Linked DNA regions of Homo sapiens. The protein of the gene in region 2 purifies or fractionates together with the protein of the main gene of each other region. This does not show direct contact. Each region holds a gene or a part of one and is shown on either strand. Other genes may lie near its edges.

Region 1 (4,258 bases), on a different chromosome or scaffold from region 2:
GGAGAGCCCAGATGGAGGGGCCCGTGGGGTAAGTGGGTGTGTGCCCAGGGAGGGGTTCCAGGAGAAGAGGCCCCACAGCTGGGCCTTGGAGGGTGAGGGTGTGTTTGGCCATTGGCAATGCCCCCAGGAGAACACCCCTCTTGGGCGGAGCACTCCACTGTCCCACGGAGAAAAAAATTGCAGAGAAAAGGGGGAGGGGGATCGTCGGATTCTTTCTTGCAGCCTTCAGGTGGCGCCCTTGAGCCACGGAGCCGCAAGCGCCCGAGGAGACCGTCCCGACCTAAGGACCTCGGAGAGGACCCGGGGTCCTACCTGGGGGCTGCGTGCGGGGTGGGGGTGGGGGGAAGGGGAAGTGGCAGAGTGGGGGTGAGGAGTGGGGAGGCACCTGCGCTTGGCGCAATAGGGGCTCTCCGGTGGTGGGGAGGGATCTTCTTCAGCAGCCCCCGCCCGCCCCGCCCCTGCGCCCGTGGACCGCGGGCTCCAAGCCCCAGTTCCCTAAGCCCAGGCGCCGGCGATCCAGATCTGCCTGGAGGGGAGGGGAGGACGGTGGATCGGAGCCCCCGCACCCTCGCCCCAGCCCATCACCCGCCTTCCTGTCCCTCTCCTTGCTAACTCTCCGGGCGCCCTCGCCGGCCGCGGGCGGAGCTCCCTCCGCGGCGCTCGGCGAGCCCCGGCCCCCGCCCCTTCTCCCGTCCCTCCGTCCCCGGATCCCCCCCCCGCCTCCCCAGCGGCCGCCACCGCCGCCGTACAGCTCCGCGCGGCGCGAGTAGGTACGTGCGCCTCGGCAGTGGCTCCGGGCCGGGCCGGGAAGGGGGCGGGAGACCGGGAGGGCGAGGCGGTGGCGGCCGGGCCCGCGCCCTCCGGGCTGCGCCGCAGGAGAGAGACCCCCGCAGGCGAGACCCCCGCAGGCGTACGCCGGCTGCAGGAAGGCGGACGGGCACCGGAGAGGACGCACCCTCGCCCGCCGGCGGCCGGGCGCCCTTCGCCCCAGCGTGGTGAGGCGGGGAGGGAGGCCCGGCACAGGTACGCACGCGGAGAGGGGACCGCTGGGGGCGGCAGGAGGCCGAGGGCCGGGGGCGGGGAGTGGCGGCGAAGGACGGCGAGCCTGACCTCGCGGCCCGCCGAAGGACATGCGACCAGGGGACCCGGCCTCCCCGGGCCTCCGCCTGGTCCGGTTCGGCCTTCCGGGTCCCGCGTCTGTGGGCAAGGGCAGGAGCAGGGGGTGTGGACTGGGCCGGCGGGAGCGGGCGCGGTGGGCAGCCGGCGTGCTGGGGCTTTCTGCGCGCAACTTTGGGTACAACAGCGTGGACCTGCGTGTGCGTATCTGCGCGCCCCAAGGCTTTGTGTACAACTCGTGCGTGTGTCTATCGACTGGGTTTTGTGAAGCTTCACCCACAGCCGCTGTGCGTCCCTCTCTCCGGGTGTCAGTGCGCGCGGCGGGTGGGGTATTGGGCCCCTGCGGGTCTTGGTGGATCTGGCTTGGGTCTCACTCCCAGGGGCACTTTGTGTGTGTGTGTGTGTGTGTGTGTGTGTGTGTGTACGCGCGTGTGCGTGTGACGGGGTACTCGCGTGGCCCGAAGATCCGAGGGTCACACTACGTGACTTCTGGGTGTCTGTGGGTACTGCTGTGGGAACAGCTGCTGGGGGAGTGTGTGTGGAACTGGAGTGTTCCTTTCAGGACCTGTCTGACTGCAGATGAAATTAGTAACTGGTGGGGTCGTGGGGTGTGAATGGTGGGCGGGAGCAGCTATGTCAGTTGGTGTGTTTCTGCTTATGTTAGGGTAATTGGGCACGGCCTTTGTGTAACTGGTGAATATCTCTGAACCTGGGCATGAAACAGAGAGATGTCCTAACTCTGGGTGAGAGGAATCCTCATTTTTCTCTGCCCTCTCACTGTGGCATCCTAAGAAAAAAGTTTTGGGTTCCTGCAGCATGAAGGAGAGCTCTGCTCCCAGAATTTGGGAGCTCCAGATTTCTTCCAGGGTGTGGAGGCATCAATATATCAGTCTGGGAAAGGGGTTCCTGGGCCACTCCAGGAGCTGAGTTGGGTGGAAGGTGCTGAGGGTGTGGGTGGGGGCCACTTCTGAGCACCCATGTGGCACCCACTGCTGGTCCCTGTTTGTGGCTGGGCACTCAGGAAAATGTTTTTGGTGCTAAGAGTAAAAAGCCAACCAACAAACACATCTCTTTTTTCTGTCTATTCACTGGAAAGTAAAAGCAGTCTGGGCGCAGGCTGGGGACCCAGATGGAATTCAAACTTATGCCTGCTCTCAAGGTGCTCACGGTTGCTGATAAACAGCTGGATAAAATGAAGAGTCTATGAGTGAGGGATGCAGAGCCAGGGAAGGCTGGTGGAGTGATGCCACCAGCACAGGGGTATGAGTTTGCAGGTTTGTACATGATAATAATTCTTAGGGAATCTGCATTCAACTCCTGTCCTCCACCCTCCCATACATGCCATGGGATCTTGGCCATGTTTTATGAAATAGAGACAGTAATTCCGGATCGTGGGGCTGGTGAGGGTGATATGAGATACTCCTGCATGAAGTGTCGGGTACATGGCTCAACAGCTAGTAGGTGCTTGGTAAACATTTACTAAATTGAGACTCTGGAAAGAGAGACGTAGTGATAGAAATGGGCTGTAAAGGGAAAAGAGCTTTGTACTCACATGAAAGGCCCTATATGTGCTAAGAGGAGGTGTCTGATGCTAGTCCATATTGACAAGAAGGTCAGAAAGATTGAAAAACATGTCTTCCTGCACTGAGGCTCTTTGAGTTTCATTCATTCATTCATTCCATTCATCCTCACTTCATTTGCTCATATTTACACACACACACACACACAAACACACACACACACACACACACACAGAGAACGAACCACAGTGCACTGGAGAATAAACTCCGGCATGAGAATGCAGAGAATCGTGTGTGTGTGCATGTATGTGTGCGTAGACACACCGGAGCATGTGAGCCACTCTGCACCTGGTGGTCTCTGTAGCCCATGGCTTGTGCGCCTAGGGCTCTGAGTGTATGTGCCCTCAGGCCATCAGTGTATACAAGGAATGATGCAGTTCTGCTGTGGATTAGGAATGACACATGCCAGGCAGGGAAGGGGGCTGAGGTGGGACCTGTCGGGGAGAGGCTAGATCTGCCTAAGAGCCCCGATTGCCAACTCCAGGCGAGTGTTACAAGGGAACGGGGGCCTAAGGTGGCCAGATTCTTTCATTTTGCAGGAGAAGCCAGGAATCCAACATTTAAAATGTAAAATCTAAAATCTTTTGCTTTTTATACATTTGCAACTAATTCACCAAAAACAAATGAACAGGCCAGGAACAAAACAAAGCAAAACTTCTATCAGCCAAATATGGTCCCCGGGCTGTAAGTCAGTATCCTTCAGCGGGAATGCACATGTGCTGTCTGTGTCTGGGTGGGTTTGTGTTCAGGTTCTTGGGTGGGGTAACTCCTCTTGCAGCACAGAGAGTGTCCCTCTTCTCGCCTCTCCCTCCCGGTTCCCCTCCTGTGGTTCTAGTCCAGGTCCCCACACTTCTGTTTACATAAAGGCATTTGGCTTTGACCTAGTCATGGCTCTCCAGTCTGCCCCTTCCTCTTGGCCCTTTTAGCCATGCCATCCCCAACCTGCTGGCTTCCTTGCTGGACCCCCATCCTCCACTTTGCCCCCTCCCATCTCATCAGTCCTCCTTTCTTCTGAAGCCGAGGCACTTCCTGCTCCAGCTCCTCAGCTCTGCATGGCTCTCGGGCTCCTTGGCCTGGCTTTCAGAGTCCTCTGTGAGCCGGCCCCAGCTGGCCTCTGAGGCAGTCTGTTCCCCTTTCCAGAATGCCCTCATCACCTTCCATTGCTGGGAAGTATCCAATTCATCTTCTGAGATCTGGCTCAAATGCCACCAACTCCCAGAAACTTCCCTTCCTCTTTGTTCCCACAACAACTTCTGCATTTCTACCCCCTCCCCCACCCCTCCGTCATCCTTCCCTCATACAACAAGGTCCATGGATTGCACTGGCCAGGGTCTTGCATGCACTATTTTATGAAATCCTCACAACAACCTTATGAGGGAGGCATTTTATTCATTACCATTTTATAGATAAGATGAAGACCGAATCTGGAGAGGTCACATCACTTGCCCAAGCCCAAGTGGTGAAGCTGGGATTTGAGCCTGATATTCACACTACCTACATTCCCTCCAGTATAATAGGAACTCATCGCTAACTTTGAGCACTTAGTGTTCTGAGTACTTCGT
Region 2 (3,805 bases):
CAGGTGGATCACGAGGTCAGGAGATTGAGAGCAGTGTGACCAACATGGTGAAACCCTGTCTTTACTAAAAATACAAAAAAAAAAAAAAAATTAGGCGGGTGTGGTGGCACGTGCCTGTAGTCCCATCTACTGTGGAGGCTGAGGCAGCAGAATCGCTTGAACCAGGGAGGCGGAGGTCTCAATGAGCTGAGATCATACCACTGCACTCCAGCCTGGGCGACAGAGCAAGACTCTGTCTCAATAATAATAATAATAACAAAAACTAACATAAGTTAAGTGCTCACTGTGTGCCTGCAACCATGCTAAGAGGTTGGTCTCTATATTGTCTCATTTACTGTCATGACAACTTGAAAGGTACATACTGTAGTTATTCCCATTCTACCAGAAAGGGACATGAGACTTGACTTGCCTCAAATCCCAAATTTGTTCCCAGATTCTGTCTAACAACAACAAAAGCCACTCACTATTCAAACTGTGTCTTGGGAGGATACCAAGCAGGGAGGTGAGGTGGCTGATCTTAACCGCATACTAAGTCCTTCCATGTTATCTCTGCTACCAGAACCCCCTTCCTCCCCTCGCGGCTCCTCAAGGAGGAACCACTCTCCACCTGGAACCCAAGGAGATTTTCTTCCCAGCGACAGGGGCAGAGAATGGCCTCTTGCAATTCCCCATCCAGCTGGAGAATTTAAGGATTCTGTTATTTCCTTTCCACAGCTCCTCTTCAGGAATTCACGTCCTGCTACCGGCCTCAGGACATAGCTAAAAATAACCTCTGGTTTCCAAACTGAAAGCCCTGTCTGTTGGGAGGCTTTGCCGGTGTGCGCCTGGGGCCGGAAGGGCTGTGTCGGAGTAGCTGAGGTCAGCCTGAGTCTCATGCCGGTGTTGCCTTCCTCTTTCCAAGGAAGCCCAGGGCCTCATGAGTCACCCCGAACACCCTGGGGGAGTCGGGTTGGAGGAGGGAGTTAGGTGGGACCTACTGTGGCACCACGGTGGCTGCCAGGCCGAGGATGCAGAACTGAACAAGAGGAAGGGTCGTTCCTAAAGAAACTCTAGGGGATTCTCTAAGTGGTGTCTGTTCTAATTATAACCCAATCCAGCCAGAATGGGGAGTTGAGGGAGAAAGGCCTCTCCTAAGCTGCCTTGGAGCAAACTCTCCATCCTTCGGGTGTTTCCATCCCTGCCACCTTATGTGCCCAGAGTTCTGTCTGGACTTGCCTGAGAAGGTTGCTGGATGATCTTCCAGCTGAGAAAAGCTTTCTCTGCCGGACAGCTCGCTGCCTTCTCCTGGTGCCGCAGTCACTTCCCACTGTCCCTCTCCATAAGTCAGGACAGTACCATGATAGTGATGGAACAGGCCCTGCTCTCTGACCTCCAGGTCCTGCTCTCTGACCTCCAGGCTCTGCTCTCTGACTTCCTGCCCCTGGCCCAGACTGCCCCTGGCTACAGGCTGTCCTCAGGAGCCCCACCTTGCCCCTCTGGGCAGCTTCCTTGGAACAGGGAAGAATAAGCACCAAGGCTCTGGAAGTGGAGGAGCCTTAAAGCCTGGGAGTCAGGAGGCAGGGGGAAGAGTAAAGGAGTCAGGGCTAGAGACTGGGCTTCGAGCATGGCCCACTGAGGCCCGCTGGTGATTTCATGGATGCTGAAACAGTCAGGAGGCCCCAGCAGTGCCTGAAATGAGACTGAATCTCACCTCACCACCCTTTGCTGCTCCCCACATTCTCCCAAATCTGGTACCCCTGCCCCAGGTGGCTGAAGCTGGACTCAGCCAGCCAGTAACCCCTAGCAAGGAGACTGGTTCTCTGTGTGTCCTGGCTTCCCATGTGCTCTGCCTGCAGAGAGGCAGAGGTTGAAGCAATTTCCCGAGGACCTGGCTACCTGGCAGCAGCTGGGCGTCCACCTTGAGAAGGATGGGGGAATCTCAAGAGATCTGCCTGTCTCCCGAGGGCTTTTCCGGCTCCGGAATGGCACATGTGGGAATCCCAGTCTTGTTGGCTACAACATTTTTCCCTTTCCTAACAAGTTCTAACAGCTGTTCTAACAGCTAGTGATCAGGGGTTCTTCTTGCTGGAGAAGAAAGGGCTGAGGGCAGAGCAGGGCACTCTCACTCAGGGTGACCAGCTCCTTGCCTCTCTGTGGATAACAGAGCATGAGAAAGTGAAGAGATGCAGCGGAGTGAGGTGATGGAAGTCTAAAATAGGAAGGAATTTTGTGTGCAATATCAGACTCTGGGAGCAGTTGACCTGGAGAGCCTGGGGGAGGGCCTGCCTAACAAGCTTTCAAAAAACAGGAGCGACTTCCACTGGGCTGGGATAAGACGTGCCGGTAGGATAGGGAAGACTGGGTTTAGTCCTAATATCAAATTGACTGGCTGGGTGAACTTCAACAGCCTTTTAACCTCTCTGGGAGATGAAAACGATGGCTTAAGGGGCCAGAAATAGAGATGCTTTGTAAAATAAAATTTTAAAAAAAGCAAGTATTTTATAGCATAAAGGCTAGAGACCAAAATAGATAACAGGATTCCCTGAACATTCCTAAGAGGGAGAAAGTATGTTAAAAATAGAAAAACCAAAATGCAGAAGGAGGAGACTCACAGAGCTAAACCAGGATGGGGACCCTGGGTCAGGCCAGCCTCTTTGCTCCTCCCGGAAATTATTTTTGGTCTGACCACTCTGCCTTGTGTTTTGCAGAATCATGTGAGGGCCAACCGGGGAAGGTGGAGCAGATGAGCACACACAGGAGCCGTCTCCTCACCGCCGCCCCTCTCAGCATGGAACAGAGGCGGCCCTGGCCCCGGGCCCTGGAGGTGGACAGCCGCTCTGTGGTCCTGCTCTCAGTGGTCTGGGTGCTGCTGGCCCCCCCAGCAGCCGGCATGCCTCAGTTCAGCACCTTCCACTCTGAGAATCGTGACTGGACCTTCAACCACTTGACCGTCCACCAAGGGACGGGGGCCGTCTATGTGGGGGCCATCAACCGGGTCTATAAGCTGACAGGCAACCTGACCATCCAGGTGGCTCATAAGACAGGGCCAGAAGAGGACAACAAGTCTTGTTACCCGCCCCTCATCGTGCAGCCCTGCAGCGAAGTGCTCACCCTCACCAACAATGTCAACAAGCTGCTCATCATTGACTACTCTGAGAACCGCCTGCTGGCCTGTGGGAGCCTCTACCAGGGGGTCTGCAAGCTGCTGCGGCTGGATGACCTCTTCATCCTGGTGGAGCCATCCCACAAGAAGGAGCACTACCTGTCCAGTGTCAACAAGACGGGCACCATGTACGGGGTGATTGTGCGCTCTGAGGGTGAGGATGGCAAGCTCTTCATCGGCACGGCTGTGGATGGGAAGCAGGATTACTTCCCGACCCTGTCCAGCCGGAAGCTGCCCCGAGACCCTGAGTCCTCAGCCATGCTCGACTATGAGCTACACAGCGATTTTGTCTCCTCTCTCATCAAGATCCCTTCAGACACCCTGGCCCTGGTCTCCCACTTTGACATCTTCTACATCTACGGCTTTGCTAGTGGGGGCTTTGTCTACTTTCTCACTGTCCAGCCCGAGACCCCTGAGGGTGTGGCCATCAACTCCGCTGGAGACCTCTTCTACACCTCACGCATCGTGCGGCTCTGCAAGGATGACCCCAAGTTCCACTCATACGTGTCCCTGCCCTTCGGCTGCACCCGGGCCGGGGTGGAATACCGCCTCCTGCAGGCTGCTTACCTGGCCAAGCCTGGGGACTCACTGGCCCAGGCCTTCAATATCACCAGCCAGGACGATGTACTCTTTGCCATCTTCTCCAAAGGGCAGAAGCAGTAT

Evidence for each region.
Region 1: the proteins of PLXNA2 (region 2) and TMEM74B fractionate together in Homo sapiens (co-fractionation; one large-scale study listed by BioGRID). This does not show direct contact.

Annotation. Positions count from the first base shown.
Region 1 is NC_000020.11:1,181,903-1,186,160, reverse strand, and holds the start of TMEM74B (transmembrane protein 74B), read left to right. Parts: upstream 1-1,179; 5' UTR 1,180-1,859; exon of another isoform or gene 1,860-2,212; 5' UTR 2,213-2,359; coding exon 2,360-2,390; intron 2,391-4,258.
Region 2 is NC_000001.11:208,216,885-208,220,689, reverse strand, and holds part of PLXNA2 (plexin-A2 precursor), read left to right. Parts: intron 1-2,687; 5' UTR 2,688-2,722; coding exon of another isoform or gene 2,723-2,767; coding exon 2,768-3,805. UniProt on the Homo sapiens protein: Coreceptor for SEMA3A and SEMA6A. Necessary for signaling by SEMA6A and class 3 semaphorins and subsequent remodeling of the cytoskeleton. Plays a role in axon guidance, invasive growth and cell migration.